Homo sapiens: one gene and its partners. The protein of the gene in region 6 purifies or fractionates together with the protein of the main gene of each other region. This does not show direct contact. Each region holds a gene or a part of one and is shown on either strand. Other genes may lie near its edges. The genes, in order: COA6, RRBP1, LRPPRC, TPR, FBXO38, STYX and CAP2.

Region 1 (4,726 bases), on a different chromosome or scaffold from region 6:
TCAGCTCAAGACTTTTCAGACTCTTCTAATACACTTACTTATGGCTATAAATGTCCCTGTAAGTGCTGCTTCAGTTTCATCCCACAGGTGTTGCTATTGTTATTTTATGGTTCAGTTCAAAATATTTTCTCAATACCATTGACTCTGTCTCTGTGTTATTCAGGCTTGTTTTTACAGTTCTTTATTGATTTCTATCTTAAATGCACTGTAGTAAAAAATGACAATTATTTCAATTTTCAAAATTTCTTGAGTTGCTTTATAACTAAGTATGTGGTTGACTGTGGTGATGTGTCTGCTTTCAAAAAACTGTACATTCTGATTTTGGTCGTGTTGTTCTGTACATATTAATTGCGTCATTTTTACATCATGTTATTCACGTTTCCTATATCCTTAACTTTTCTCTTGCTAGTCTTAACGATTAGTGAGAAAGTCCTGTTAAAATTACCCAATATGACCAGGCATTTTTTTTCTTTGTAATTCTGTCACTTCACTTTGTTTCATATGTATTTTTCATTAGGTACTTATAAATTTTAAATTTAAAACACATTTCCTTTTTAGACTCAGAAGTCATCTAAGACTCTTTCCTTTCATTCCTTTTATATCCCATCAGTCATATTTAAAAGATATCTATATGTAAACTGACGTCAATAGACATGATGTAAAAGAAGGGGGTGGCTCTGGTAAAGCTAAAGTAACTCCACTATGAGAGTGCATTAACTATGGGGGAAATACTTTCTATATTGCAGAACACATATTTGGTGGTACGTAGCCTCACATCGCCACCCGGAAAAGTCTGCATATATTGAATTTGGAATGGATCAAACTGCACTGAGTGCAAAATTGTAAATTGCATCTTATATAAATGTTTTAGAACTAGATGATGGAGCAGATGGGATCTATTAAGAGAACGGGGTGCCAGATGACTGACCATAAACATGCTTTTTAATAAAGACTCTGCTGAGAGATTAACTCATATATTTTCTAAAATTTTTATTTCTTGTTCATTTTGTTTCTAAGATATTCACTCACATATTAAAAATAACAACGTCTCAAAACATTTGAAGCAACTCTCTTCATCCCTTTTAAAAATACCTTGCTGTTTCGGGGGTTAAAAAAAGCCACAAGGGAGATTAAAACAATACAAATATTTATTTTCCCAACTCCCCTGCCATGGGTTCTGGGACGTCACCGCCTCTTTCTGGGGCCCGTTTCATCCTTTTCTTTTAATCCAAGAAGCGATGGTGTTGTGCGCCTGTAGTCCCAGCTACCTGGGAGGCAGGCTGAGGTGGGAGGATCTTTTGGGTCCAGGATTTTGAGGCTGCAGTAAGCCGTGTTCTCACCACTGCACTCGAGACTGGGCGGAAGAGCGAGACACTGTATCAAAAACAAAACAAAACAAAACGAGAAGGCATCGCGGCTCTGTAACACTCCGTCCAGCTCTCGCACTCTCAGATGCAAACTTCCACACAAACTCCTCGGCTCGCCTTGTCCCGCGGGACTAGCATATCAAGCCTTCCGGGACACACCGTGCGATGATATATACGTATATACCCCTCTTGCCCTTGAAGGCCGGAAGTCGGTCTTACAGATAAAAGCGAAACAGGAAGTCCCGCCCCTCTATGGAAAGTAAATGGTAGCTCGGAAGGGTCAAAAGAGTCCGCGGTTTCGCCGCGTGAGTTGCTTTTTGCGGCTGGGGAGGTCTACGCTTCTAGAGCTTGAGCCAGCGGGGCGACCCTGCAGTGGCAGGACTCGGCACCGCGCCCTCCACCGCCGGTTGGTGGCCTGCGTGACAGTTTCCTCCCGTCGACATCGAAAGGAAGCCGGACGTGGGCGGGCAGAGAGGTCGGCTTGCTGATGGGTCCGGGTGGGGCGCGCGTGGACTATGGGCCCGGGAGGTCCCTTACTGTCCCCGAGCCGCGGGTTCCTCTTGTGCAAAACGGGGTGGCACTCCAATCGCCTGCTTGGTGATTGTGGCCCCCACACACCTGTTTCTACAGCGCTTAGGTTCGAACAGTAACCCTGTAAACTAGGCACTGCTGTCCCCGCTTTACTGGTGGGAAACGGGCTCGGAGAGAATAAATGAGCTGCCCTAAGCGACTGGGACAGAACCACAGTTCTCAGCCGGGCTTTCTGAGCCCACGCTGCCGCCCCAGCAGGGATCAAATCACACAGTGTGAGATAAGCCTCAAGAGCGGGTGGCCTTATGCTGCCACTGAGAACTGATTGGGTTCAGTTGCCTCATCAAAATCCCTAAGCATGGTTTTGTTTTGTTTTTGTTTTTTTTTTTTTTTTTAGTTTTAAAGGAAGAGGAGATTGACGGTTTTCCTCTTTCCTTATCTTCTCTTCAGATTACAAAGTTCATTGTTAATCTCAAATATTATTTTGGCCAACAGCTTCATCGCAGTAGGAATGGCAGCCCCATCTATGAAGGAAAGACAGGTCTGCTGGGGGGCCCGGGATGAGTACTGGAAGTGTTTAGATGAGAACTTAGAGGATGCTTCTCAATGCAAGAAGTTAAGAAGCTCTTTCGAATCAAGTTGTCCCCAACAGTGGGTAAGTCACACTTTGATGTGTTTCTCTTCCCTGTTAAGATACATCGAGCTTATACTGTGAGTGGTAGGCTGACATGAAGCGCTCTCTGAGGCATGTCAATTAACAGTTTCTTTGAGGCGCAGAGAAAACCTTGCCTGGTAATTCAGCCTTATTTGACGCACTTACATCAGCTAGATCTTTGGAGAATGTCAACTGACACATTAAAGAGCATCGAAAAACACAACAAACATATGAACAGTAACCAAAAAATTCCAGTTCATTTCACTGGTAGACTTTTCCAGGATCTTCTGAAGGGGTAGTATTTAATCTTGGGCAGGAGTTGGCAAAATTATTGACCTAGAGCTACTATCAGAAATAAAGCATTCCCAGTTGCTCACCCAAAAATCCTGTAAGTCATCATATACCCAAAATATAAAGAAAGGAGTTTGGTAAGCAGAAGAAAGAAAAGGTTCATATGGTGGATTCTGTCTCCCTGACAGGCATTCAAGCGCTGTATCCCCTGTCCTTAGTATAAGGGGGGATTGGAAAGAGGACTATTACTGAGGTTAGTAAGTGGCCATGTGTGCTAAGTGCTTGACATTTTCATCTTCACCAGTACCTGTTAAGATAGGTGTTGTTGGCTGGGTGCGGTGGCTCACGCCTGTAATCCCAGCACTTTGGGAGGCTGAGGCGGGCAGATCACGAGGTCAGGAGTTCAAGACCAGCCTGGCCAACATAGTGAAACCCCATCTCTACTAAAAATACAAAAAAAAAAAAAAAAAAATAGCTGGGCATGGTGGCACATGCCTCTAATCCCAGCTACTCAGGAGGCTGAGGCAGGAGAATTGCTTGAACCAGGACCTGGGAGGTGGAGGTTGTAGTGAGCCAAGATCACGCCACTGCATTCCAGCCTGGGCCACAGAGCGAGACGTTGTTATTCTCTATCTCCAGAGGAGGCAGCTGAAGCTCAGAGCATTGAAGTAACTCGCTTGTTATTACTCAGCAAGTGGCAAAACTGTAATTTTAAGGCAGGCCTAACTGGCTGGTGTGGGATTTGAACTTGGATTTGCCTGTGCTTTTTCACTGTCTTATGCTGCTGCAAAATATACCATGTAGTTGGAAAACAGATACTTTTAGAGTTGAAGTGGTTTTAGGGGTTTTGCCCTCTCATACCTCAAACCTTTAAAAGGCTCTGAAGGAGGCTACAAGAAGGCTGTGATGCAGGGAGGGGTCGTATTGGTGGCTGAGCTGGGGATGAACACAGTGAACAGAAATTACTTTATTTTTCTTTCTTTAATTTTTAGAGACAGGTTCTCAATCTGTCACCCTGGCTTGAGTGTAGTGGCGTGATCATAGCTCACTGCAGCCTTGACCTCCTGGCCTCAAGCAATCTTCCCGCCTAAACCTCCTGAGAAGCTGGCACTATGGGCATTTGCCACCATGCCTGGCTAATTTTTAAAATTATTTTGTAAAGACAGGATCTCACTATGTTGCCCAGGCTGGGCTCGAACTCCTGGGCTCAAGTGATCTTCCCACCTCGACCTCCCAAAGCACTGGGATTAACAGGCGTGAGTCACCACGTCTGGCCAGGCATTGCTTTAGATGAACTCTTCATCTGTAAAACCAGCCTGTTACAACCTATCTCGTGGGATTGTTATGACAACAAAATGCATAACTTGACATGTAAACTGAAAACTGATCAATGTGGGACTCTATGATTGAATTAGATAATGACTCCAGAAGAAAATATTATACATCTGTAGTTTTCCCATTAGACAGATGCATTGAGAGGAACTCCAGGTTTAAGGAGTTCCCCTTCGATCCCACTTTTATCCTCTCTCTCCTCCTGCAACCCACTGCTTTTTCTCCAGCCTGATGGCTCCCACTCCCACACTTCCGGGGCAGCTTCCAGTCTGTGTGCCAGAAAGGGTTTTTACAACCAGCCATTTGGTTCTTGATCGTATGTACATCTCTCTCACTCAAGCAGACTGGGTGCCATCCCCTGAGGCCCCAACCTCTCTCCAGGTCACTGCGTCCTAGTCACCGCTAACATGAATTGAGTACATCCTCTACACTCTACACTCTACACACTTGAAATGTGTCATCTATCTTATTTATCCCTCGTGGAACTCTCTTAGCGGTTTTATAGGTAAGGGCACATTGACATGAAGTCACCTGTAGTAACAGAGCCTGG
Region 2 (3,946 bases), on a different chromosome or scaffold from region 6:
GAGGAACCCTCCAGGGGCCCAGGGATCCAGCACAGGCACCGCTCTCTAGCTGCTTCTAGCTTCCCCTTTCCCTGCCCCAACGCTCCCCTCGTTGGGGAGAGGGCACCTCAGCCCCTGGTACAGACTTCGGTGTGGCTCAGGAGCAGCTGATGGGGCCTCTGCAACCTCAGGGGCCTTTAACGAGACTCACAGGACAAGAACGATGCCTCCGAGCCCTGGCCCCATGACAACCCCCTTAACAGCCACACCATGGCCACCCCAGGGACAGGCCCTGCCTCTTGGTGAGGACTCTTGGTGGCTATTGCCGGGCTCAAAACTCTGGAGAGCGAATATCCTGCTAGCGATGTCCCAGCCGGGGTTGCAGTGGGAGACAGTCCCCTTCGATGGCTGCAGACCCTGCCCAGAGCTGCTCCTGAGCCCTGTAGGTGCAGACCCCAAATCACGGACTCCCTCTTCGAGTCCCACCTCCCCCCAACTCCTCCAGCCTCTCCACCTGGCCACCTTTCTGTTCCATGCTCTGTGGCTTTCTCCGAACCTGGATGATCCAAATGGGGCAAAGCAGGGTGGGGTGGGGAAGCAGCGGAGGCTGGAGCAGCCAGTGCGGGGTTTAGTCCGAACGGAGGCAGCAGGGCCTGCACTCTTCTGGGATTAGTGATGTGTCTGGGGACCAGCTCACCGCCCTAACCTGAACGGGGTCCTGCTCGGCTGGGGGCGCCTCTGGGGAGGAAGCTGGGGCCCCAGCTATGTCACCATCCTCTACGTGGCTCTTCATTTCACTCAACTGCTGCCTGACCTGGAACAGGAAGGGGTGTGTTTGCAAATGCACAGCCAGTCGCACACCCACCATGCTCACTCCTGCAGGGACCCCCTCGGAGGACCGTAGCTGCTCTCAACAGCCAAAGTCCCTTCAGGGGACCTGGCTTGGTAACTGTGACCTATGTCTGGCCACCCCCGCCGCCAACCTGAGCCAAACCAAGGCCACCAAGCCTCTGGGCTAATGAGACCCAATGTGCTCTGCTCCAAGCCCAACCGGAGGGGAGCCCTCCCTGGGAGTGAGGTGACCCCTGATGGGCATGGCCCACAGAGCAAAGGAATCCGAATGGAACCGGGGGGTGGCCGCCACACTGTCTACACCCCCCGTTTCTCCTTCAAGGATGCAGTCCACTGCTCAGAGCCCTTTCCGGGGTCTAGAAAAGATTATGAGATAACATTCTTGCCTAACAAGGTCCCCCACCCCTACGCTCCATCACTGGGGTTAGGTGGCATATCTGGCTGCACCCAAACCACTGGGCCTGCAATTTGAAGGGCAGGTGTCACTCGAGAGGCTCAGGTAGAGGTTCCAATTGGAGACCCAGGTGGGGCCCTTGGCATAAGCTCCCCAGGGAACATGGGCGGTCTCTGACCCTGCGCTGAGGGGCCACCCCAGGTACGTGGGAACCCCAGACATTCTTCCCTCCCTCTGAACAGCCCCTCCCAATGCAAATAACGAACTGCACAGCTGGAAGACAACAGAAACTCCAGGGGGTTTTCTCTGCACATCCCCGGCCTGGGCCATGCCCCCGGGGCCTGTCACCCAGACTTCGCTCAGCCAAGGCTTCAGTGAGTGGCCCCTAGACACAGGAGGAGACCTGGCCTAGGCAGCACTGCCCTCTGGTGTTCTGGTCCGGGTAAGACCTGAATGACCAAGGGGGACCGAGGGTGTTGGGAGCGTGTGCCGGACTCACTGGCTGCTGCAGGGGGAATGCCAGCCCATTTTTATTTAAAATTTCCCAATTTCTCCCTGTTGACAACTAATTCAAGATTTAAAAAAACACCGCAGATCAAACAGAACATGTCTGCGGCCTCACAGGGTGCTGCTCACAACACCAGCCTTGGGGCGGTACCAGATCCGGTGAGGCTGGGTGGAGCCTGCCAAGGAGCTGGGACTTGGCATCAGACACCTGAGCTGAACACCAGGAGGGACTCAAGAGGCCACCTGCACAGGCAGAGCTCCAGTGGTCTGCCAAGGGGGCTGCTCTCTGCACCCGGCAGCTGGTATGGGGCCGGGCGTGGAGCAGGTCTTCCCTGCATGCCTGTGGCTTTGACTGAATTGATCTGAGCTGTCACTGAGGTGAGAAAACCCACAGAAGGCACGGGACTTGCTGAGAGCCCCAGGGCGATGGGTGGCCAGGCCAGGAGGAACCCCCAGGCTTCCTGGTCTTGTGATGCCAGGGACTGCAATATCCCTGACGCCCCCAGGTGACTACAATGGGCTCACAGGGAATGCAGACGCCCAGAGCTCTCACTACCTTGAACAGGGGACCAGGTAGCCAGGGGACGGGAGATGGAGTGGGAGCACCCTGGTCCCAACAGCCACAGGCCCAGCTCAGAGTTCTGGGCAAATGTGCAGGAAGGCCCCCAGAAGCCGGCCCCATGCTGCTCAACGGGTGACACTGTCCCTTCCCTAGGCTTTATCTTTGAGTGGACACAAACGCATGACTGGCAAATGCATCTCACACACGCAACGCCCCAGGTCACACTCCTGGCATGGGGACATGGAGGCCACCTACCAGGGCAAGCTCATCGCTCTGTTTCTGGGCTTCGCTCTTGGCGGCATCGAGCTGAGATTGAGATTCTAGGAGAAGTTGCCTCAGCTTGGGGAGAAAACAGAGGCGGGTGATGGGAAAAAAGGAGAGAAAAGGAGAAAACCAGTCCCCGTGAGTTAGCGCCGAAACATAAAACCTAACACATCCACTTAACCAAAACCCTGAGGAGGGTCACAGCATCGGGCCGGCACAGGGCTCGCCAGGCTTCCTACAGCTACGATTTCTTTTTTGAGGACTTAGGAAGAATGGTGTTCACTGCGTACCTCTTTCAGGCCTTCACAAATGTTTACTGATTATCTCTGGCAAAAAAGGGCCAAAAGTTGGAGATGATTTTTTTTTTCAGAGATGGTCTCAATCTGTCATCCACGCTGGTCTTGAACTCTTGGGCTCAGGCAATCCTCCTGCATCAGCCTCCTAAGCAGCTGGGAACGGAGGTGCCCACCAGTGTGCCTGGCTTTTTTTTTTTTTTTTGGTAGAGATGCGGTCTTGCTATGTTGCCCAGGCCGGTCTCAAATTTCTGGCCTCGAGCAATCCACCTCAGCCTTTCAAAGTGCTGGGATTACAGGCATGAGCCGCTGTGCCTGGCCCAAAAGTTTGAGATTAAACCAGAATTGGGATACTGGGCTTGTGCTTCTGCTTCTGAAGAGCAGAAAAAGTGTCAGATCTAAATCCACTCCCCACCAGATATGACATCAGCAAGCCAGGCAGAGAATCCCCTTGCGGAGGGATAACCTAGAACGTCAAACGCCTCCCTCGGGGCAGGGCTGCCTGGCTCTGCCCCTGTCCTGGCTGGGAGGCTGCCTTTTTGAAACCTGCCCTGAGAGACACCTCAGGCCTGACAGCCCAACGAGGGGCCTGTGAGGCTTCGGGCAAACGCCTGAGGACTCGGACTTCAAGGCTTATGTCACCGAGAGCTGCTCCCACAGGGCTGAGGAGAAGCAGCTCAGGGAGGACCGCAGATCTGCTGGGCAGGGGCTGCACTCCTTGGGGGGCAGACTCACCCCTGCCACCTCCTTGGCGTAGTTCTGGCACTCGGCGCTGGCGGCCGCCATGTGCTTTTCCAGCTCTGCCTCCAAATGCGACGTGTGCTCCCTCACCTGGACAGATGCACAGACACGCACACGCATGCGCCAGCAGCCTCTGCTCAAAGGGCACTCACCTCAGGGAGCAGGCTGGCCCTGGGATAGGTGAGGCCTCTCGGGAGATCCCTGAGGCCCACCAGCTACCAAGCAAACGAGAAACTAGTCCGCGGCAAGAGAACCCCTTACGGAAAGTGGCAGGCTGCACCCGGGCACTCCTGGGGACTGACATGCTCTTAGATTTACTTGCAAAAGCAGGTACCAAGGGTACCTTCTCCAGGG
Region 3 (3,946 bases), on a different chromosome or scaffold from region 6:
ACACAAAAGACCCTTAGGTAATTTCATGTAGGGAAAACAAACTGCTATTAAAACAGCATTTCAAGCCCAGCAGGAATGTAAATTCTAGTGTATAATGCCGATTTCAAGTTAATTACTACTTGCATTTCTAAACGAGACTACAATTATAAATCCACAATAGCATGGTTTTATCATTTCCCTGCAACTTTGACTACAAATTATAGATAGGGACTATGTGCCCACTCTGTACCACATAACCCTGTATGGTCTGCCCTATAGCTGTAAGATCCTCCTAAATGGATGCTTTTATCGTTCAGAGCTAACATCTGCTAAATCACACCATTGTTTCTTCAGCAGATGGCTTGTCAGGAGGCCAGATAATAAAGATGTGTTTACACTGTATATACAGCCAGACTAATGGTCTGATACCGATAGGGCCTGTTTGCTATGTCGATACTAATTAGCCAAGCAGAGCCAATGAAAGCTTTCCAAAAGACTGCATGTTAATACATTAGATTCATTAAGCTTCATTAGGAAGGCAGAAACAAACATTTTAGGATATGGAATAAGTGCATTTTTATAATGTTGTTCTTAATTATTACACAGACAAAATGTTTTGACCACTTTACAAAAAGTGATTTTAAAAAAATAGGCTAATCCTTAGAAAGAGTTAGAAAGGCGTCCTAGGAAAACATTCAATGTTCTAATAAATGATTTTCTCCATACATTTTTCCCTATAATAAAATTAAAACAATCTTTTCTGAAAATCAAAGGAAAAGAGGAAGGCTAAAAAGGAAATTTCAAAATAAAGCCAAATCAGAAAGTTAAGAAACAAGAAAATAGTATGAATGTATTATCAAGTGTAATTAATTTTATTAGGCTTAGCATTATCTCAACGAGAAAATTTGAGTATGCAAATCAGCTGTGTAATCAGCTATGCTTTTTCCATGAACCATTAAATAAAAACCTTAATTAAAATAAAAACTTTAAAGTATATATTTTGTTAATGTTATTAAAAAGTAAGGCAAAGACTACTGCAAAATTCAGGCGCATATATTAGGTTATGTTTATAGGTTTTACGTTTATAGGTTTTACGTTCAGCCTTCAGACCTTCTTAAGCAAAAACAAAGCCATTAGTGCAGGCACATAAGCAAATTGTGCCATAAGTCATGATCTTCAAACTCAATCCAAACAGCAATGCTAATAAAAACTAGCTGCAGAAATGCAAAAAGCACTGAGCTGTGCAAATGTAAATGACAAGCTTGCCAATCCATTAAAACTAATGGCCTACACTGTCCATGTAGCTCTGGTTGGATTCACATGCAAATTTCTATGCAAAGTGTTCAAGCACTTTGCAGGACATGATATCCATTAATATCAATTCACATGTTATTCCAGTGGCAAGATACTTGCATCACATATTTCCTTTATGTGCTGAGGCTTACCTTGGAGCTTGCCATGCTTTGCCAATACTCTTACAAGGCCTACATACTTGCCGGTGTCAAGGACAGCAGATGAATCTAAGCGGTCACTAAAAATTAAAGCCACATTTATATTGTTTTAAAAGTCAATTAACTGCTAAAAGAACAGCAACATCCATTTAATCACTTTTCAAAAGCTCATCAGAAGACCTGAACTAATGTTGGCCTCTACGCTTCAGTTAGGATTTCTTTTTGAAGCCATATACAAGTTCACACGAAATTATATTCAAAGTGACTAGTGAAGTAAAAGCCCAACACTACATATATATTGCATCACTCCATCTGCAAAGGATACTTATGAAGAAACTCTTTGGCTTTAAGTGATTCTAACCTTCATCACGAATACTTGACATTTTTACTTGAAAAATCTAACAGGATAGGAAGCCAAAGGTACCTGAGAAATGGATAGAATTTTATTTACACTACAATATTGAAAGGGAAATGTTATCAAGCCTCTTAAAACAGTTACCACCATCACCACTGTTGTGATGATATATAATCAATGGAAAAAAACCTTTGGTTCTAAGGACTAGAATGTCTTATCATACTTAAACAAAGACACCTTGCTGAACATAAGCCACAATTAATTAAAGAGCCGTATAATACGAAATTTCAAAAACACTGACAACAAAAGAATTTTTAAAAATGACATTATATAAGAGAGTAATATTCCATCTAGATAATCTATCAAGGTCTGTAGAGCAGAATAAATGTTGACAACTTGTTTCAGTGCCAGGGTACTCACAATTCTTCTTTCAAGTTCAAGGCATCTTCTACTTTATCATGTCGACAGCATAAATTTATTAAAGCTGCATAGCCACCAGTAACCATGTCGGATTCATATTTTGCTTTCAATTCAAGGGCTTTTTGCATATTCTAAAATACAGCATAGATGTGAAAAAGAAGAAATCAGTGTGAAGGTAAAAATGTCACATTTTTAGCTTTACTGTTCAGAGTTTAGAAAAAGTTAATAGTACTTTAAAAATAAATGGTTTCATGTTAACAACCTGACTCTGCCCCTTGATATTTTTATTCACCTCTAAGAAGTGGGCAAGTCTTACACGTGTAGGGGTTAAAAGATGTGTTATCTGTAATATAAAATAGGCCATTATTTATGCCAAATTTGATGTTTTAGGCTTTGTGTATGGTATTATTTAAAAAAGACTTCCAGATTAAGTAATTCCCAAATCAAATCCTAATCACAGTCTAATTTCAGGATGCAGAAATATGTATCATTGAAAAGTTTCTCAGTCTAGTTTAGTATCCAAGTAATATGAAGAAATATTTTAGAATTTAACAGTAGCAGATTATAATCATAAAGTTAGTCATGATATTTTTTCCCTAAAACTACAAGTTTATGGCTCAATTATATTGAACTAGAAAGTGAAAAATAGTCTAGTGATATCCCACAAATTGCAGACATACACTAAAATGAACACAAAGTACAGCTGGATGCCCGCTGAAAAAAGGCAAGGGACCCTTTATCTCAGAAAGAGCTTTTTTCCAGCAGGAAAATGGAATTTCAATCCCTGCATTAACAACCTAGTAATATTTGACTTGCAAATGACTACTGCGTGTATCAGTTGCTTGACAATCTAGATATAAGAGACCGGAGCCATGGCTTGAAAGGACATTTGGCATGTATGATAAACCTATCACAGCTGTTACTATCATTCACTTTGCAGATTATCGTAAACAAACTACAGCAACCAGAAAACATGCCATTCAAGGTGTAGCTGAAATTAGTTAACCTTTCATTTAATTGCATTCTTTACAAGCCTGACATATAACGATCAATTGTAAAAATCATAAATATTATATTTGGTTTTTCTTATTGTTACCAAGAATTTTTTGCCTTAATAATATTTAAATATTAAAACAAATGTTACCTCTTCTGAACAAAGCACTAATATGAGTTGCTTTAGGACATCTCTTATAGGTTGATTTTCAGCTTTTAGTGTTTCAAGTGTGGACTCCAATTCAGATGATGTAAGTTGCACAGTCTACAGAAAAGAAAAAAGAAAAGAAAAATTTCCTGAAAAAGGAAATATAGTATGCCTTTTGTCACTCTTCCCTTTAAACTGACTTTCCTTTCTACCTTCCTAAATGTCATAAATGCTATCAGGGATATTAATTGGGGAATCCATGGATGGACTCCAGGGATTTACAAACCTTCTGAGATTATATGCAAATTTCTTAGATATGTTGATTTTTCTGAGGTGGGGAACAGGTTTTACCAACTTCTTAGAGGTATACAAGATGATAAAAATGTGAGGAATCACTGGTTTTATAAGTACACAATCCAGAATACTCATTAAATATGGGTATTATAGCATGTAGAATCTAGTCAAAATCCTACTTACTTTTTGAAAGTCTAAATTCTTACTCTCAACCAACAAGTGAGCATCCTAAAATTGAAATTTAAATTAGCCCAGAATTAGAAAACACACGTAAAAATACATCAGCAAACATCAAAAGCAAATTTG
Region 4 (3,946 bases), on a different chromosome or scaffold from region 6:
TGGCAGACTGTCCACACACCAGATTAATTACTGAACATAAACACCCTACAGAAATTCAGAACTCTGATGGACTCACATCTAGATTTCTAGTAAGTGTATGCCTTTGTTCCACCTCATTTTCCAACTTCTTCTTTAGATGAGAGATCTCATGTTCCAGTTTTTCTATCTGGCTACTAAGCCTTTGTTTGGTTTCTGTTTCAGATCGCTCCAGTATTCCCTAAAGCAAAGAAAAGATTTTTGGTTATGCTTAAGAAAAAGGCAATACAAAAAAATAAAAATTGAAGGCAAGAAAGAATTACAATATTACAACCCATTTCTACATGAAGCAGCTAAAATCTACAGTATTTATCAAGAAAGTATTCTGGTATTTTTTATATTAAAACATCTATTATACAGGAAAGAGATGGAATGTATTATAATCGTCATTCAGATTTCCCAAAGTTTTAAAGAAAATAAAAACCAAAGAATTAATCTTATAAATAGTAAAACTGCACAGGACACTGTAAATATACCTGAGGACTTACCAATGTATGGTTTCAATCAATTCTCTTTCAATATTTTATTTAAAATATTTAAATGTCTTAATAAACTGCAAAATTCAATGATCATAATGGATGACAAAAGTGATGGATAAATTTTCTAATTAAGGAAATTGAGAGGATAAAAAAAATCTAAATTTAACTTTTATACATTTTTTCTACATAGGCTTTTTATTTGGTTACCTGAATTGTTTGCAGATTAGTTAGCAGTAAGTTTTGCCCCCTTTGTTCAGCTAACAAAGACTCTCTTTGCTGAGAAAGACGAACTTCAGACAATTTAAGCATTTCCTTTTCCTTCTTCAAATTTTCTGCTCTTACCTAAACATAAGTAGAAATGAAATAAAAAATGCTGAAAAACATGGTGTCAAGTGTATTAAGATTATAAAATTAAAATGATTCATACATCACTACTTTTTTTTAATGCTCTTAGGGACTATATCTCCTCATTGTATAAGGAAATACAAAACAGTTTCATGTGCTAAAATACGAAGCAAAAATTATTGGGGATCATCAATGAAAAAATCTTTCAATTACAAATACTTATGGTTCCTTGCTCTAACAATCCACAGTTTAAAAAATAACAGCAAGAAAAATTTAATATGTGAGAAGAAGAAAGCAGAATTGCATGACTGCTGTAATCATTCATACCTGACTACTATTAAATTATGTAACTTTTAGAATCCAAGCCGGTTTCAAAGTACCTGTTTAAAAGTGATGATTGATCTATTTAAAGTTTCTCCCTCCCCTCAACCCCAAGAGTCTGAGTCTCAAGGGGACCAGGGAGAGTGTTTTGAAAGCTCAAAGTACTCATATTTACACACAAGTACTCATATTTACACACAGATTCATATAAATGATCAATGATAAAATTCACTCTACCAGTTTGAAAAAGTGCTGCTGCCCACTCCTCACAATGGAGTTGGAGCAAGATAAAAATAAAGAATACAGCCTTATAAGAGCATTATAAGACATGGGTTCAAGTCCTAACCAACCCATCTCTCATGACTGTCCCAAAATAGGCAAATTATACATTAGCTCTTGAGTCTGTTTTACACAGGTAAAATGGGGGACAACTATACCTAGCTTACAAGTAATGATCAAAGACAGAAGAGATAACTGAATAACAAAGAAAACTATATAAAAAATTTATCATCACAAAACTAAGTATTTAGTTAAAAGTAATAATTTCAAATGGACATTTATATTCAAGTTAAAATTCAGAAATATAAATTCAATGCAATGTAATTTTTATATTGCTTTTTATTACAGATGAGCAAGAATGAATAACATATTCGTCTGGCCAGGCACTGTGGCTCATGCCTGTAATCCCAGCACTTTGGGAGGCTAAGGCGGGCAAATCACGAGGTCAGTAGATCGAGACCATCCTGGCTAACACAGTGAAACCCCATCTCTACTAAAAATACAAAACATTAGCCAGGTGTGGTGGCGGGCACCTGTAGTCCCAGCTACTCAGGAGGTTGAGGCAGGAGAATGGCGTAAACCCGGGAGGCGGAGCTTGCAGTGAGCCAAGATCGTGCCACTGCACTCCAGCCTGGGCGACAGAGTGAGACTCTGTCTCAAGAAAAAAAAAACCAAAAAAAAAAACGTCTTTGTTAGAACCAAACACTGACCTACAAATTTATTTTGAAATGCAAGACTTGCGAGTATATCTTAGCCCAGCAGAAAAACAAATTCCTTTCCCTCTTCTATCTTAATAGAAACAATCACCCCACTAACGCACACTGGCTATTTGCAAACTATGTATTAATTACTTGGTGTAACCTCCAAACTTCTTAAATACCTAAGTCCTATCAGTGAGTAAAATTCAAAGTAAAAACTAAAGAAATGTCAAATGCAACTTATAATGCAAGTTGGACAAGGGATATTGGACTCACTTCTGCGACAGCTAGCTTCTCATTTGCTCCTCTCAAATCTTGAGTCATCGTATTGATAATCTGTTCTTGCTTTTGAGTTGTGGCAGTGAGTTTCTGATTTCTCTCATGAAGTGATGTTATTTCTCGACGATATCCTTCAACATTATCTTGCAGCATTTCATAACTGGTATGAAAAAAGTAATTCTACAAGTAACTGAAATGATATCCTAGCTTAATCCCTTGAAGAAATTTCACAATAGCTTAACCCATTTCCCCAAATGCCCTGAGAATATTGTCTCTAATCCTAATGTAACATCATACATATTTCTGTTAAGTTGAATTCTGCTTAGAAATAACTCCAGGAACAGTTTTTATATTTTATTTTCACACTGAAAATCTGTCAGATTTGCCTCAACCTCAAACAGCATGCTTATGTAAAATTAAATGAGCGCTGGCAGCAAGCTGCACTTTTTTTTTTCTAAATGGGAAAGGGGTTAATTTTATGATTTATGAAGAAGTGGCTTGTGTAATAAGGTAAAACCTTCATTCTTTTTTCCCAATTCCAAATGTAGTGGTTCAAGTTCTAAGTAAGCAAAGTATTTCATGCTAAGTAACTTTTTAATCTTATTTTTAAAAAATCAATTATATTTAAAGTAATGACAATGCAATATTGATAACACCAGACACCCACTACAATGCAGTATACAAATTAAGTTATTATACAGGGTTAGTGATGGATTTTTGCTAATCCTTTTTTCTTCTATAATCCTCAGTTTTATTTTCTTATGTGCTTGAAAGCTGACATAATGGCTGGCTAGAGGTATCAACAGAGAAAAAAGAAGTGCTTTAATTGGGGTTGCTGAACTATTAGATGTATAGGGGTAACTGCCTGCAATATATCCTGCCTGCTATAAAACAGAAACAGTTTTATCATGTACTATATAAAAATAAATATTGTCCTAACAAACTAAACTAACAAGCATTCAATGAATTTAATAACAAATAATCATGAAATATTTATTATTTCTTTGGATGTGACCAAGAAAATTAATTCTCCTAAAACTACATAGCACTTGCTTCTCTTCTACCTAGAATAGAAAAGGTGGAATAAAATTTGCTCTCATTTCTCTCATCATCTGGTGCATTTTTAAAAGAATTAAGTCCTACCGAAACAAGTCCTTTAATCTTAGGAAGGTAAACTACCAACATTCCTCACATGAACTTCAACTTATTTTTATTTTATTTTATTTTTTTGAGACAGAATCTCACTCTCTTGCCCAGACTGGAGTGCAGTGGCCCCAATCTTGGCTCACCGCAACCACTGCCTCCTGGGCTCAAGTGATTCTCCTGCCTTAGCCTCCTGAGTAGCTGGGATTACAAGCATGCAACACTGCCGCTCAGCTAATTTTTGTATTTTTAGTAGAGATGGGGTTTCACCATGGTGGCCAGGCTGGTCTTGAATTCCTGCCCTCAAATGACCCACCTGCCTCGGCTTCCCAAAGTGCTGGGATTACAGGCGTGAGCTGCTGCGCC
Region 5 (3,946 bases), on a different chromosome or scaffold from region 6:
CATTTATCTCAATCAGGATTCTCTGGTTTAGTAGGCATTTAAATATAACAGTGAGATATAAATTGCCAAGTTCCCTAGACAGAAGAATTTGCAAAATTATTCCCAGCATGACAGACTGTTTTCAGGTCTGAATGTGACTATTTGATTTTCAAATCAGCCAGAGATTTCAAAACTGAAGGTCCATGGAAAGATTGTTCAAGCTCTCGGAGAGAGATTTCTAAGGCATTCTCTTTGTTGAAGACATCTCTTTATGATGTCTTCCACAGGTGGACACTCTAACTTTGGAGCAGAAGCTATTTAGTGGTCCCTACCCCTATCACATCTGTATTATCCATGAATTCAGTAACCCTCCCAATGTCCGGAATAAGGTGCGCATTCGCAGCTGGATGGACACTATAGCAAACATCAATCAGTAAGTAACTTTGTGGCCCTTAAAGGCCTTTTGAGTCATTTCTCATAGCAGGGACTCCCAGAAGCAAATCCCAATTTTTCTTTATTTTAAATGATTCCATCTAAGCTTTTCAAACAAGCTTATCCTGAAGTTAACGTAAGTAAGAAACTGAGGGAAATGAGGACTTAAAACTAAAAAGCATGTGTATATATTTATGATCTTTAAAACTCAGGTAAAAATTACAAGAACAGATTGCACATGTACTTGTAACATTATTTAGCCTTGGGGCATGAAAAAGAGATCAACTTGAAGAAGATCTTAAGACTATGATATTCTATATCATCAGAAAATTTGACTTTTATAAATTTGTTATATAAATGTTGCATTAAGCACCTTTTGTGTAGAAGACATATGCTTAGAAAGTGACTTTCTTTCCCTGATATGATTTTGAAGATAGTGAAGAAAGTAGTTTTGACCTGACTACACTTGGATTCTCTAGTTTGAGTGTATCCTACTTCCGTTAGGTATTTGATGTTTTGTTTGAGATGTTCGGTAGAATCTGTGTCCGAAACAGTTTTGATGGTTCCTTCCTACCCGACACTAATTATTTCCAGTTTTGTAATTTTTACTTAATTTTTCCTGTTGCTTCCAGAGAGCTCATTAAATATGAATTCTTCCCTGAAGCCACTCGAAGTGAAGAAGACTTAAAGAAATACCCCAAGTACCCCTGGGGGAGAGAAATCTATACTTTAGAAGGTGAGTATTTACAAATGTTTAGAAAGTTAAATAGCCTGTGCAGTACTTACCTCTGTAATCCCAGCGACTCAGGAGGCTGAGGTGGGAGGATCACTTGAGCCCAAGAGTTCAAGACCGGCCTGGGAAACAAAACCTGGCCCTTTCTCATTCACGGATGAATGAATGATCCATCAATCAATTAGTCAAACTGGTTTGGGCTTACAGCAAGCAGTAACCCAAATGTAGAGAATTACACTTTTTAAAAAAAGAAAGTTGAATAGCTATTAACTAGATGACCGAACATGCCTTAGGGAAGATATGAATGGGGGTCCTACAGTTCTTCAAAATATGGATGATTTTAATACCTGCAAGAAGTGGGAGCCAGATGAAGATTGCTTTGCCTGTATGAGTCTTTACTATTTCTAGGACAATCAGAACCAGTGATGAAACATAAAACGTAAACAGAAATTACAAATTAGTTTGATAGCTGGAAATGATTTGAGGACACCTGACTCACTCTCTTTATTTTATATTTTACATTCTGCTTACAAAATACTGCAGAATTTGGCTCTGTCAGCACTCCCACGCCAGTTAGCAATGTTACATTTGTCTTTTAGGTGTTGTGGATGGAGCTCCATATTCCATGATTTCTGACTTCCCTTGGCTGAGGTCATTACGAGCTGCAGAGCCCAACAGCTTCGCTCGATACGACTTTGAAGACGATGAAGAAAGTAATTATGACCTGACTTGACATCTATTCTCTAGTTTAAGTATAGCCTACTGTGTTACATACTTAATATCTTTTTGTGAGTTAGGAGCAGTGCAGTGTTAAATGGTTTCCCATAGAAATAATTTGTATTTACTCACTTCAAAACAGTTCTTTATTTGTGCAGTAGATGTTCAGTGGACTTACTAGGGATATATAAAGGCTGGTAGAAAGGATTCCTTTAGACAGATTTTCCTACAAGATTTTTATATTACCTAAATATTTATAATCTTATTTATTAAATAACTTCAACTATATTGTTTCAAAATTGTTCCAATTGTATTATTCTCCTGCTAGTTATGAGCTGCTTATTGTGTGGAAACTTATAATTTAGGTGTAGAAATTAGGGGAGAAATTTTTGAATGTAGTTTCTCTAAGTGGTAGCATACTTGAATATTTATTGTTAACCAAAGGTTTTTTAAAAATACTTTATAAGGAAATGGATTTTATGAACTACATGTGCATGTGTCTGACTTGCCTTTGGTGCAGTATTTTTACCTTGAGACTTTAAGCATGTATTCTGTCTTAGGCATCAAACATAAGAACAAACTGGTGGTGACCCATTCCTTGACCTATTCATGCATCAGTTACATTATAGTGCAGTATATGGGACTGTCCTATGGACCAGCTTATCAGTGATTTTCCAAATGATTCTGATTATCATATGTATCTCTCCTTTTATTTCTAATTTCAAAGGCACTATCTATGCTCCTAGAAGGAAAGGACAGCTGTCTGCAGACATCTGTATGGAAACAATAGGAGAGGAAATTTCAGAGATGCGTCAGATGAAGAAGGGTGTATTTCAGCGAGTAGTGGCAATTTTTATCCACTATTGTGATGTCAATGGAGAGCCAGTTGAAGATGACTACATTTAATTGGTCCCTCCTCCTTTCCAGCTATTTTGTCAGAAAGCAAGTAGGGCCATCCAGCTGCCAGAGTGCTCCACAGGGACTTGAGGCATGCAGTTGGGAGGTCCTGGCTCGGTTTGCTATATAGGGAATATATAAGGAACATCGAAATTGTATACAAAGATTTGTACATAAAAAATATACAAAGACGCTTCCTAAAGTACCAACTTTATATCATATGTTTATACAATTTAATTTAAAAATTCATTTTAAGGAAGACAGATAATTTGAAAGACTTTTGTTTTTCTTGACTTAATTCATGAAGTATCATTTTTTGACTGAGTCTCCATTTACTTCATTCTTAATGATTATTGTCATCCCTTTAAATCTGTGCCTTTTTCTTCTTGAGCGAAGCTGTTTGAGTAAACCTGTTGAAGAGTGTTTGTGTCTTTTGTGCTTTTTTGTTGTTATTAAAACACCAACTAAACCTTATAGTCAAGACAAGGCTCTATGTTTCTGTACAAAGCTGTAGTTCTTTCTTAGTATTATAGTTGCCATGTTTCTTAAAATCAAGTAAAAAGACTTATGAGCTTAAAAAAAAGTGAGTTTGAGAGGGAAATGGAAAAGTTTCCAGAGTATTTCTAGTAATTTATTTCCACATTGAATTGTGTATATGCTTTATCTTGAATATAAAATAAAAGTTTATTAAAAACTTTTCTCTTGCCTTGGACCTGAATCCCTCTTTTTAAAGAAGAGTAGCAAATACTGCACAGAAAAGCAGTGTATATATAGAGTTGTATCTAAGGTAAGATTCCAGTGTAATCCAATTTCTGATCTCTGAAAGTTTTTAGCTACAAGATGTTCAACTCACATAACTTTTTTTGTTTGTTTTTTTTGGTTTGGTTTTTTTTTTGAGATGGAGTTTCACTCTTGTTGCCCAGGCTGGAGTGCAATGGCATGATCTCGGCTCACTGCAACCTCTGCCTCCCAGGTTCGAGTGATGCTCCTGTCTCAGCCTCCGGAGTAGCTGGGATTATAGGCACCCGCCACTATGCCTAGCTAATTTTTGGTATTTTTTAGTAAAGGCAGGGTTTCACCATGTTGGCCAGGCTGGTCTGGAACTCCTGATCTCAGGTGATCTGCCTGCCTCAGCCTCCCAAAGTACTAGGATTACAGGCAGAGCTCTTTAAGGCAATACTGGGAACA
Region 6 (4,476 bases):
GAGGTCCTTCTGTGTCTTGTGCTACTGTGTTGTTAATTTGGCACATCACTTATTTTCAGTAAGGTACAATTTCTTCACCTGGAATGTGGGACTCCTCTACATTATTTGTAAGGTTGCTTGCAGTTAAGTGCTGAAATTACTGAATCATTTTGAGGATATGAAAGCATACTCCTTCGCGGTGGCTCAAGCCTGTAATCCCAGCACTTTGGGAGGCCGAGGCAGGCGGATCACTTGAGGTCTGGCGTTCCAGACCAGCAGGGCCAACATGGTGAAACCCCGTCTCTACTAAAAGTACAAAAATTAGACGGGAGTGGTGGCGGGCGCCTGTAATCCCAGCTACTCAGGCGGCTGAGGCAGGAGAATCTTTTGAACGTGGGAGGCGGAGGTTGCAGTGAGCGGAGATCACGCCACTGCATTCCAGCCTGGGCAACAAGAGTGAAACTCCGTCTCAAAAAAATAAATAAATAAATAAAAGCATACTCTTCATTCACATTATTGTATGTTAAGTATAAATTCATTTTTATAACTAGCCTAAATATGACCTCCTGTTTTCTAAGAGTATATTGGCCGGGCGCGGTAGCTCACGCCTGTAATCCCTGCACTTTGGGAGGCCAAGCCAGGCGGATCACAAGGTCAGGAGTTTGAGACCATCCTGGCCAACATGGTGAAACCCCGTCTCTACTAAAAATACAAAAAAATTAGCCCGGTGTGGTAGCGGGTGCCTGCAGTCCCAGCTACTCGGGAGGCTGAGGCGGGAGAATGGCGTGAACACGGGAGGCAGAGCTTGCAGTGAGCCCAGATCGCACCACTGCAAGATCATTCCAGCCTGGGCGACAGAGTGAGACTCTGTCTCAAAAAAAAAAAAAAAAAAGCTGGGCCTGGCGGTGCGCGCCTGTAATCCCCAGCTACTCAGGAGGCTTAGGCAGGAGAACTGTTTGAACCGGGACCCGAGGCAGAGGCTGCGGTGGGCTGAGACAGCGCCACTGCACTCCAGCCTGGGGCAACAAGAGTGAAACTCTGTGTCAAAAAAAAAAAAAAAAAAAAAACCATGAGTATATTCTTGGGCCAGGTGCAGTGGCTCACACCTGTAATCCCAACACTTTCGGAGGACAAGGCGGGAGGATCTTGAGGCCAAGAGTTCGAGACCAGCCTGGAGAAAAAACCCATCGCTACAAAAAAAAAAAAAAAGAAAAATTAGCCCGGCATGGTCCCAGCTACTCCAGAGGCTGAGGTGAAAGGATGGCTTGAGCATGGGAGTTCGAGACTGCAGTGAACCGAGATCACACCACTGCACTACATTTTGCAACAGTGATAGTCACAAACAAAGTCTCTACTCTTAAAACAAATGTAATTGTCAAGCATCAATACCACAAGAGAGCCCTCCAAACAAAAATGTGAACCTAGGCCGGGCGCGGTGGCTCATACCTGCAATTTCAGCACTTTGGGAGGCCGAGTCGGGCGGATCACAAGGTCAGGAGATCGAGACCACCCTGGCCAAAATGGTGAAACCCGTCTCCCCTAAAAACACAAAAATTAGCTGGGCGTGGTGGTGCGCGCCTGTAGTTCCAGCTACTCAGGAGGCTGAGGCAGGAGAATCGCTTGAACCCGGAAGGCGGAGGTTGCAGTGAGCCGAGATCGCGCCACATTGCACTCCAGCCTGGCGACAGAGCAAGACTCCGTCTCAAAAAAAAAAAAAAAAAAAAAGTGAACCTCCAATGAAGATATTCAATAGAATAAATATTCGGAATAAATTGAATGGTCTCCTAAAAATAGGGCTTTATTTTTCCCAACTACTTTAAAGGTATTTTTAACTAGCGATGTTAGATTTTCTTTCTTAATCCTACTAAAGTATAGCTGAGTATCTTCGTCTTGTTAATTTAGCCTCCAGAAAATTCTAATTTAGTAGTCTGCAATGCCGTAAAATGTTAAACTAGCAACAGATGAAAAAAAATCCGAGTAGAAACAGCAGGCAGGGATCTAAGGTGGAGTAAAAATAGCCACAAATTAGAAACCAGGAGAAAAGGTATATAGTATTTTACTTTCAATATTAATTTTCCTCCAAAGGTCAAGATTTCTGATTAAGAGTTCTCAGATTAAGATGAGCTAGCTTTGAGACACTTTGTTGTGCGGGTCATAGCTTTGTCTAAAAACAAACAAAAAACTTTGGGAAACTTTTCGAAGGCGCGCTTCCAAACTTCAGGCGCCGAGTCTATTTCACATGTGGGGCCATGTGTCCCACAAGTGAATCGTTTACACCACAGATATTCCTCAAAAGGAGACTAAACCAACTTCGCTCTCTTGTTACTTTGACAATAAAAGAGGAACCTTACTCCAGGTCAGTCCTGGATGCCAAGCCTAGGGACTAAGGGATTGCTTTTCCTCTTCTCAAATGTAAGTACACCAGACGCTGCCCCTCCGCGGGGTCTGGAGAGGACGAGCAACTCAGTGGGGATTGGAGCCGACCGCTCGGCTTCAGAGGTCCCGGGACGCCCTTAGGAGGCAGGGCGCCCGTACAGGTGGCGGCTAAGACGGTTGGGGACTGGGGTCGCCCCTCGGCCGGAGCCACAGGGAGAGGCCTGTGCGTGGCAGCCACGGGAGCGACTCACCTCGGCGTCTTCCTTGCACTGTGGAAGGGAAGGGAACTCCAGCTTCACGTCCTCCATGGTGCTGGCCCGCGGGCTGGTGGGTGGGGTGGGAGAGTGTTACACAGCCGGCCGACCCTCGGGCTGGCTGCGGCGGCGGAAGGAAGGAGGGCCGGCGGAGCGGAGGGCTGACAGGAGGGCGGCGGGATTACAACTAACACACGCAGACTACAGGGTCCCAGTGACTCCAGCAGCGGCGGCGGCGAAGACAGGGAAGAGGAGGGTCGGGCGTCTTACACCCGGCCGCCATGCCGCTGCCGTCTCCCTCCCCCAGAGTCTCCGTACCCCTCAGGCCGCCCAGGATCCAGCACAGGAACCAGCCCGACAACCGTCTCCCCGCCTCCTTCCCGCCCCCTCCACCCGCGTCGCCTCAGCCAATCCCAGCCCACGCTCGCCTTCTGCCCGCCCTCCGCCGCCGCCAGGTGTCAGCGCGCCACCGCCCTGCTCCGCCCCTTCGCTAGAGCGCAGACGCTTGGGGGTGGGGGGGGCGGAGCCTCGGATGCTGCTAGGCCACAGCTCACCCGGCGTGGAGGAGGCGGGGCTGCGGTGGGACAGGACGAGTGAAGGTCCTGGGAAAGGCAGTGGGGCGGTCCGAGCCAGCTCCGCCCTTTCCAGACAGGACGTAGAGCCCTTCTTTAACATAAGAACAAACAGGCAAAACAGGCTACCCACCAGTGGCATCCGAAAGGAAAGCTATAGTTTCTCCCCTCTCAAAATTCTGCGCAATCTATGCTGAGTTTATAACCAAATGACTAATAAATGAAGAGTTCAATTTAAAATCACGTGGTGCCATACAGAAAATAAAATACCCATCACCTTTAAGCAAAGAATTAAACGGCTCAATTTAAAATTTTTTAAAGTATTTTAAGAGTACTTGAAAATACAACTCAGTTTAGATTACCTAGAAAATATCAAGAATGGCAACTAGAAAAAAATCAGAAAAAGGAACTGATAGCTGACTCAGTAAATTGTATATAATACTGTAAAATTTCTTCCATTATTATATTTTGAAATAAAAATAATAAACCAGATGGCTTTCAATATCTTTTAAAAGGAGTTTGCCAGCCTGAGCAAAATAGTAAGACCCCCCTCTCTAAAAAACAATTTTAAAATTCCCTGGGTGTGGTGGCGTTATGCCTGTAAACCCATGGTGAAAAGATTTGGGCCGGGCGCGGAGGCTCACGCCTGTAATCCCAGCACTTTGGGCGGCTGAGGCGTGTGGATCACCTGAGGTCGGGAGTTTGAGACCAGCCTGACCAACATGGAGAAACCCCGTCTCTACTAAAAATACAAAAATTAGCTGGGTGTGGTGGCGCATGCCAGTAATCGCAGCTACTTAGAAGGCTGAGGCAGGAGAACCGCTTAAATCCGGGAGGCGGAGGTTGCAATGAGCTGAGATAGTGCAATGGCACTACAGCCTGGGCAACAAGAGCGAAACTCCATCTCAAAAAAAATCAAAAATAAAAAAAGAAAGAAAGGATTTGTACACCAAATTGATTCTTTAAAAAACCACCGCCAGCACAAAGGTAAAAGGCAAGATAGTCACTCCTTAACTAAATGCAAATTATAAGTGAAAAGATCACATAGATATTTGACTTAAACCTCCCCCTACATTCTACTTTTTGTCACATAAAATGCACTGCCAACACATAGAAATAGAACTGTACAATAATTTGAGTATGAGATGGCTAACTTGACCACTCCATTTTCTATTTTAACTGTTCATCTTCTAAAATTATAAAAAGGCACATAATATCCTGCTAGGAAGTTTTTAATTTGAAGAATTATTGTATAATTAGCTAGGTCATGTATTTTTGGTTCTTTAGTGTTTATG
Region 7 (3,946 bases), on a different chromosome or scaffold from region 6:
GTCATTTCTGCCACGGACAGCAAACTATTAGGAAATAAATTATGTGCAGCTGCGGTAGCTTTTAGACTTTACCTCTCCTTCTAAACCCCTTTATATACCCTCCTCTGAAAAGAATGTTGAATGTAAGGGCTTTGGAATTAGAATGGCCTTGGTTCAAACAGCTTTGGTGCCTATGGGGCCTTGAGCAAATTACTTAATCAGATCCTTAGTTTCCTCATCTATAAATCAGAGAGAATACCTACCACCTACAGGCTACAGGAGATACTGCATTTTAAAGCCCTGGCACATGGGAGGTACACAATAAATAGAAGTAATTATTATTATTTCCATGATGCAGTTAACTCATACCAGAGGTAAAAAGGATGTTGTCCCCTGTAATATGTGATATTCATTTGTTTAAAATAAATATGCATTCAAGATATGAGAAGCTCCAAACAGACATCTATATAGATTAACAGGATTTTAGGATTCCAGGAGTCTAAACTGGGTCACCTAGTTCAGCTTTTTGACAAATCCAATAGAATAGGTCACAATTAATATTTAAAAATCATGAAAATAGATTAGAATAGAAAATATCAGAGGGCATTCACATGTAATAAGGATGGATATTTTGGTATTAAACACTTGTTTTGGTTATGAAGTGTGTGTGTGTGTGTTTGTGTGTGTACTGGGTTGCCAAATAAAATGTATTTCTTTTTATGGATCTAGCCTAAAAGTTTGAGAAACATGGCCGTAATCCAATTCTCCTATTTTACATATGGAATACGAGCTCAGAGAGGTTAATTGACTATGTCAAGACCAGCTAGCAATGATTAGTGGAGCTGGAACTGGAAGCTAGGTCTTCGGGGAGGCCCTGAGACAATTCTCGATACTGGGTGCTGAGAAAAATATGGTTAGTTCTCTACATACAGGTTTCTTCTCTACCAATAAGACTAGGGAAAGGTGTTAGAAGAGATTAAGAGCAAAGGTTCTAGAATGAGACTTCTTGGGTTCAAATCCTTGCTCCACAGTGTACTCAGCTCTGGGACTTTACACCAATTACCACACTTGTCCAAGATTCCCTTGTCCCATCTGCAAGCTAGGGTTGACAACAGTACCTGCTTCACAGGTATGTTAGGAGGAGTAAATGAGAGAACATGTCATGCTTGGTAAAGGGTCAGGTATACTGTGGGTGCACAACAGGTGGCTGGTTTTCTCCAAGGTATCTGCCAGTTACAAAGCCTCTGATTGGCCGAGTTCACTGACTAGCTCTTTCCCATCCCTTATATGCAAACACAAGGAGAGTGGTTTCCTAACTGACATATGCTGAGGGACAGAGGCACACTTCTGTTTGGGGGAAACAAAGAAATACAGGGAAAGAAAGCAAAGTGCTCTCAAGGTTCCCAGTGGACTTTTTAGCTATCCATTACTGAAGGAGGGGAAAAACAAAAACATTTGCTGCAGAAGCTAGTCAGCTCTTGTGGAAAAGCCATGAATATCTTCCTGTCTCCTCTCTTTCCCTTCTGACAACTACAAAGCAAAGGGCTTATGGATTTGGTGAAAAGACCTTGAATCAGAGTTGTTAGGGACTGCACTCTGTGCACCTGCCCCCCAACCAAATTCATATGCTAAAGCCTTAACCCCCAGTACCATATTTGGAGAAAGGATCTTAAATATGGTGGGAATGCAACCATATTTGAAGATAGGGTCTTTAAAGAAATGATTAAATTAAAATGAGGTCATTAGGGTGGGCTTCAATCCAATATGACTGGTGTCTTTTTTTTTTTTTTTTTTTTTGAGATAGAGTTTTGCTCTTGTCGCCTAGGCTGGAGTGCACCGGCACGATCTTGGCTCACTGCAACCTCCACCTTCCAGGTTCAAGCAATTCTCCTGCCTCAGCCTCCCAAGTAGCTGGGATTACAGACACACGCCACCACACCCAGCTAATTTTTGTATTGTTAGAAGAGACGGGGTTTTGGTTTCGCCATGTTGGCCAGGCTGGTCTCAACCTGTGATCTGCCCGCCTCGGCCTCCCAAAGTATTGGTATTACAGGTGTGAGCTATGGCACCCGGCCTGACTGGTGTCTTTATAAGAAGAGGAGATGAAGACAGAGACACACACAGAGGAGGCGTGGGGAGAGACCAACCCTGCCGTCACCTTGATCCTGGACTTCCAGCCTCCAGAACTGTGAGGAATTTCTGTTGTTTCTAATCTACCTGTCTGTGGTACTTTGTTAGGGCAGCCCTAGCAAACCAATGCAGGGGTAATGGCAGTTCAGGGACTCCTTACCTCCAAATTCTCAACAATAGAACAAACAAAAACCCCTCTAAACACTCCTGGCCCCAAATACAATTATGTCATGCTTGTTTGTTAATGGCTGCCAAAAATCAGTTTTAAATACCCTCCCTGGAGCTTCATTCTTTAGAAAGCAAACATCTCCTTCTTTGGGGGATTGTTTTCAGTCCAAATACAACACCTGATCAAAGGTGTGGCATCAGTTTCCCCAGAAGGCAGCTGATTTTTAATGATGGCAGAACTACTAAAAAAAGCTTCCTAATTTTCTCCAACAATTTGCTAAGTCATAATGTTCTTAATGTAATGACATTTTTGAGAAAGGCCAGAATATCTGTATTGTTGATGATACCTGGCCCACTGCCCCAAGGGGAAAAAGAACCAGAAACTGTATATTTATAACATTAGAGAGATTTATTAAGGCCATCTTTGTTTATCTCTAACTTCCCTAGAACAAACTCTAAAGTCTGAGGAGACAGAGTCTTCTGGAAGATACTTTATATTGGTTATCTGATGAAAGCATCATAAAGATTGAGAAAGTTTTCTTTTGCTTTAGCTTGGCAATTATGTGAAGAATTGTCATCATTAAAAAAAAAAGCAATGTTGACAGAACTAAGTACAACAGCTATTTGCACAACTCTAATAAACATTAGTGCTTTTATTCTGTGCCAATAGATTTCTCCTGTACTTTAAAGAAGTCTTATCTTCACCAGTTCATCCTGACTTTCAAGGCAGGAATCAAAAATAGAAGAGAACATTAGAGTGATGGTGTGACTTCCATCAAAGCTGGAGCTGGTTGTGTGGGATGTCAGACGAAAAGTCAATGGGGGGTCTATGAGAGGTACTTCAACTTGTTTCAGTATTAAGCGTATATTAGGCACACTCAATCAATACAGGCTGATTTGCATTGATGTCAATTAAAATTACATAAGGGTTTTCCACTAAAGAAGGAGCTCATCTAAGAGGTGTCCTGGTTTTCTGTCAAGGGAGTGCATTGGTGGTAGCTCCCCAGATATGTCTAGCAGCTAGTGTGCTTTGCAATGACTTTTACATAGATGTCACTCAGATTACTTTTTGTTAACGTCTCACTGAGGTTTCTTTGATTCTCAATAATTTCTCAGAATTCAGGTGAAGATGAGCTGAACCTGCTCCCTGGCCTTCCCCTAGTTTCTGTGGCTTGTGACAGAAGGTGGAAAGGACCAACATGGAAGAGATGCATGAACAAACTGCATGTTTTCAGCAAACGTTTCCAAGGGTTATCTTAGCTGGATGCGACTGTACTTTGGAAGAGTATTTTAGGACTCCATGTCTTTATGACCCTAGCTTCTGCTTTAAAGTTGAAGAACTGAGTCCTGTTATCAGCTTCATCTCTGTTTGGCTCCCAAAGTAAGGGAATTGTTTTGCAAAAGTAAGATGAGTTTTATCAGCAAGCTTTGTAGAAACTTTACCCAAAAAGGAAAACCAGATTCCCACTCAGGCTGTTTTGTAAGAGACGGCACAAACTCTGGGAGTTTGACCTCAAAGATGTATCACTGAGCAAAACAAAATAGGCCTGTTATTTCTGGAACCCATGGTTCTCATGTAGTTCTGTATCAGGTGGAAAATGGTTCAGTCATTGTTACTTCTTTTTAACGAATTTCTTTTTCTGATTATAAAAATCAATATATGCTCTTC

What was found.
Region 1: the proteins of STYX (region 6) and COA6 purify together in Homo sapiens (affinity purification with mass spectrometry; one study listed by BioGRID and IntAct). This does not show direct contact.
Region 2: the proteins of STYX (region 6) and RRBP1 purify together in Homo sapiens (affinity purification with mass spectrometry; one study listed by BioGRID and IntAct). This does not show direct contact.
Region 3: the proteins of STYX (region 6) and LRPPRC purify together in Homo sapiens (affinity purification with mass spectrometry, with the first as the bait; one large-scale study listed by BioGRID). This does not show direct contact.
Region 4: the proteins of STYX (region 6) and TPR purify together in Homo sapiens (affinity purification with mass spectrometry; one study listed by BioGRID and IntAct). This does not show direct contact.
Region 5: the proteins of STYX (region 6) and FBXO38 purify together in Homo sapiens (affinity purification with mass spectrometry; 2 studies listed by BioGRID and IntAct, with this or other methods). This does not show direct contact.
Region 7: the proteins of STYX (region 6) and CAP2 purify together in Homo sapiens (affinity purification with mass spectrometry, with the first as the bait; one large-scale study listed by BioGRID). This does not show direct contact.

What each region holds. Positions count from the first base shown.
Region 1 is NC_000001.11:234,371,837-234,376,562, forward strand, and holds the start of COA6 (cytochrome c oxidase assembly factor 6 homolog), read left to right. Parts: upstream 1-1,619; 5' UTR 1,620-1,630; coding exon 1,631-1,842; intron 1,843-1,846; exon of another isoform or gene 1,847-1,882; coding exon of another isoform or gene 1,883-2,004; exon of another isoform or gene 2,005-2,393; coding exon 2,394-2,553; intron 2,554-4,726. UniProt on the Homo sapiens protein: Involved in the maturation of the mitochondrial respiratory chain complex IV subunit MT-CO2/COX2. Thereby, may regulate early steps of complex IV assembly.
Region 2 is NC_000020.11:17,616,047-17,619,992, forward strand, and holds part of RRBP1 (ribosome-binding protein 1), read right to left. Parts: intron 3,683-3,946; coding exon 3,587-3,682; intron 2,634-3,586; coding exon 2,550-2,633; intron 794-2,549; coding exon 686-793; intron 1-685. UniProt on the Homo sapiens protein: Acts as a ribosome receptor and mediates interaction between the ribosome and the endoplasmic reticulum membrane.
Region 3 is NC_000002.12:43,943,908-43,947,853, forward strand, and holds part of LRPPRC (leucine-rich PPR motif-containing protein, mitochondrial precursor), read right to left. Parts: intron 3,869-3,946; coding exon 3,824-3,868; intron 3,464-3,823; coding exon 3,350-3,463; intron 2,337-3,349; coding exon 2,206-2,336; intron 1,511-2,205; coding exon 1,425-1,510; intron 1-1,424. UniProt on the Homo sapiens protein: May play a role in RNA metabolism in both nuclei and mitochondria. In the nucleus binds to HNRPA1-associated poly(A) mRNAs and is part of nmRNP complexes at late stages of mRNA maturation which are possibly associated with nuclear mRNA export.
Region 4 is NC_000001.11:186,351,254-186,355,199, forward strand, and holds part of TPR (nucleoprotein TPR), read right to left. Parts: intron 2,598-3,946; coding exon 2,435-2,597; intron 858-2,434; coding exon 723-857; intron 218-722; coding exon 77-217; intron 1-76.
Region 5 is NC_000005.10:148,439,381-148,443,326, forward strand, and holds the end of FBXO38 (F-box only protein 38), read left to right. Parts: intron 1-266; coding exon 267-412; intron 413-1,043; coding exon 1,044-1,147; intron 1,148-1,743; coding exon 1,744-1,857; intron 1,858-2,588; coding exon 2,589-2,767; 3' UTR 2,768-3,456; downstream 3,457-3,946. UniProt on the Homo sapiens protein: Substrate recognition component of a SCF (SKP1-CUL1-F-box protein) E3 ubiquitin-protein ligase complex which mediates the ubiquitination and subsequent proteasomal degradation of PDCD1/PD-1, thereby regulating T-cells-mediated immunity.
Region 6 is NC_000014.9:52,728,662-52,733,137, reverse strand, and holds the start of STYX (serine/threonine/tyrosine-interacting protein), read right to left. Parts: upstream 2,973-4,476; 5' UTR 2,664-2,972; coding exon 2,607-2,663; intron 1-2,606. UniProt on the Homo sapiens protein: Catalytically inactive phosphatase. Acts as a nuclear anchor for MAPK1/MAPK3 (ERK1/ERK2). Modulates cell-fate decisions and cell migration by spatiotemporal regulation of MAPK1/MAPK3 (ERK1/ERK2).
Region 7 is NC_000006.12:17,501,435-17,505,380, reverse strand, and holds part of CAP2 (adenylyl cyclase-associated protein 2), read right to left. Parts: exon of another isoform or gene 3,394-3,946; intron 2,168-3,393; exon of another isoform or gene 2,033-2,167; intron 1-2,032. UniProt on the Homo sapiens protein: Involved in the regulation of actin polymerization.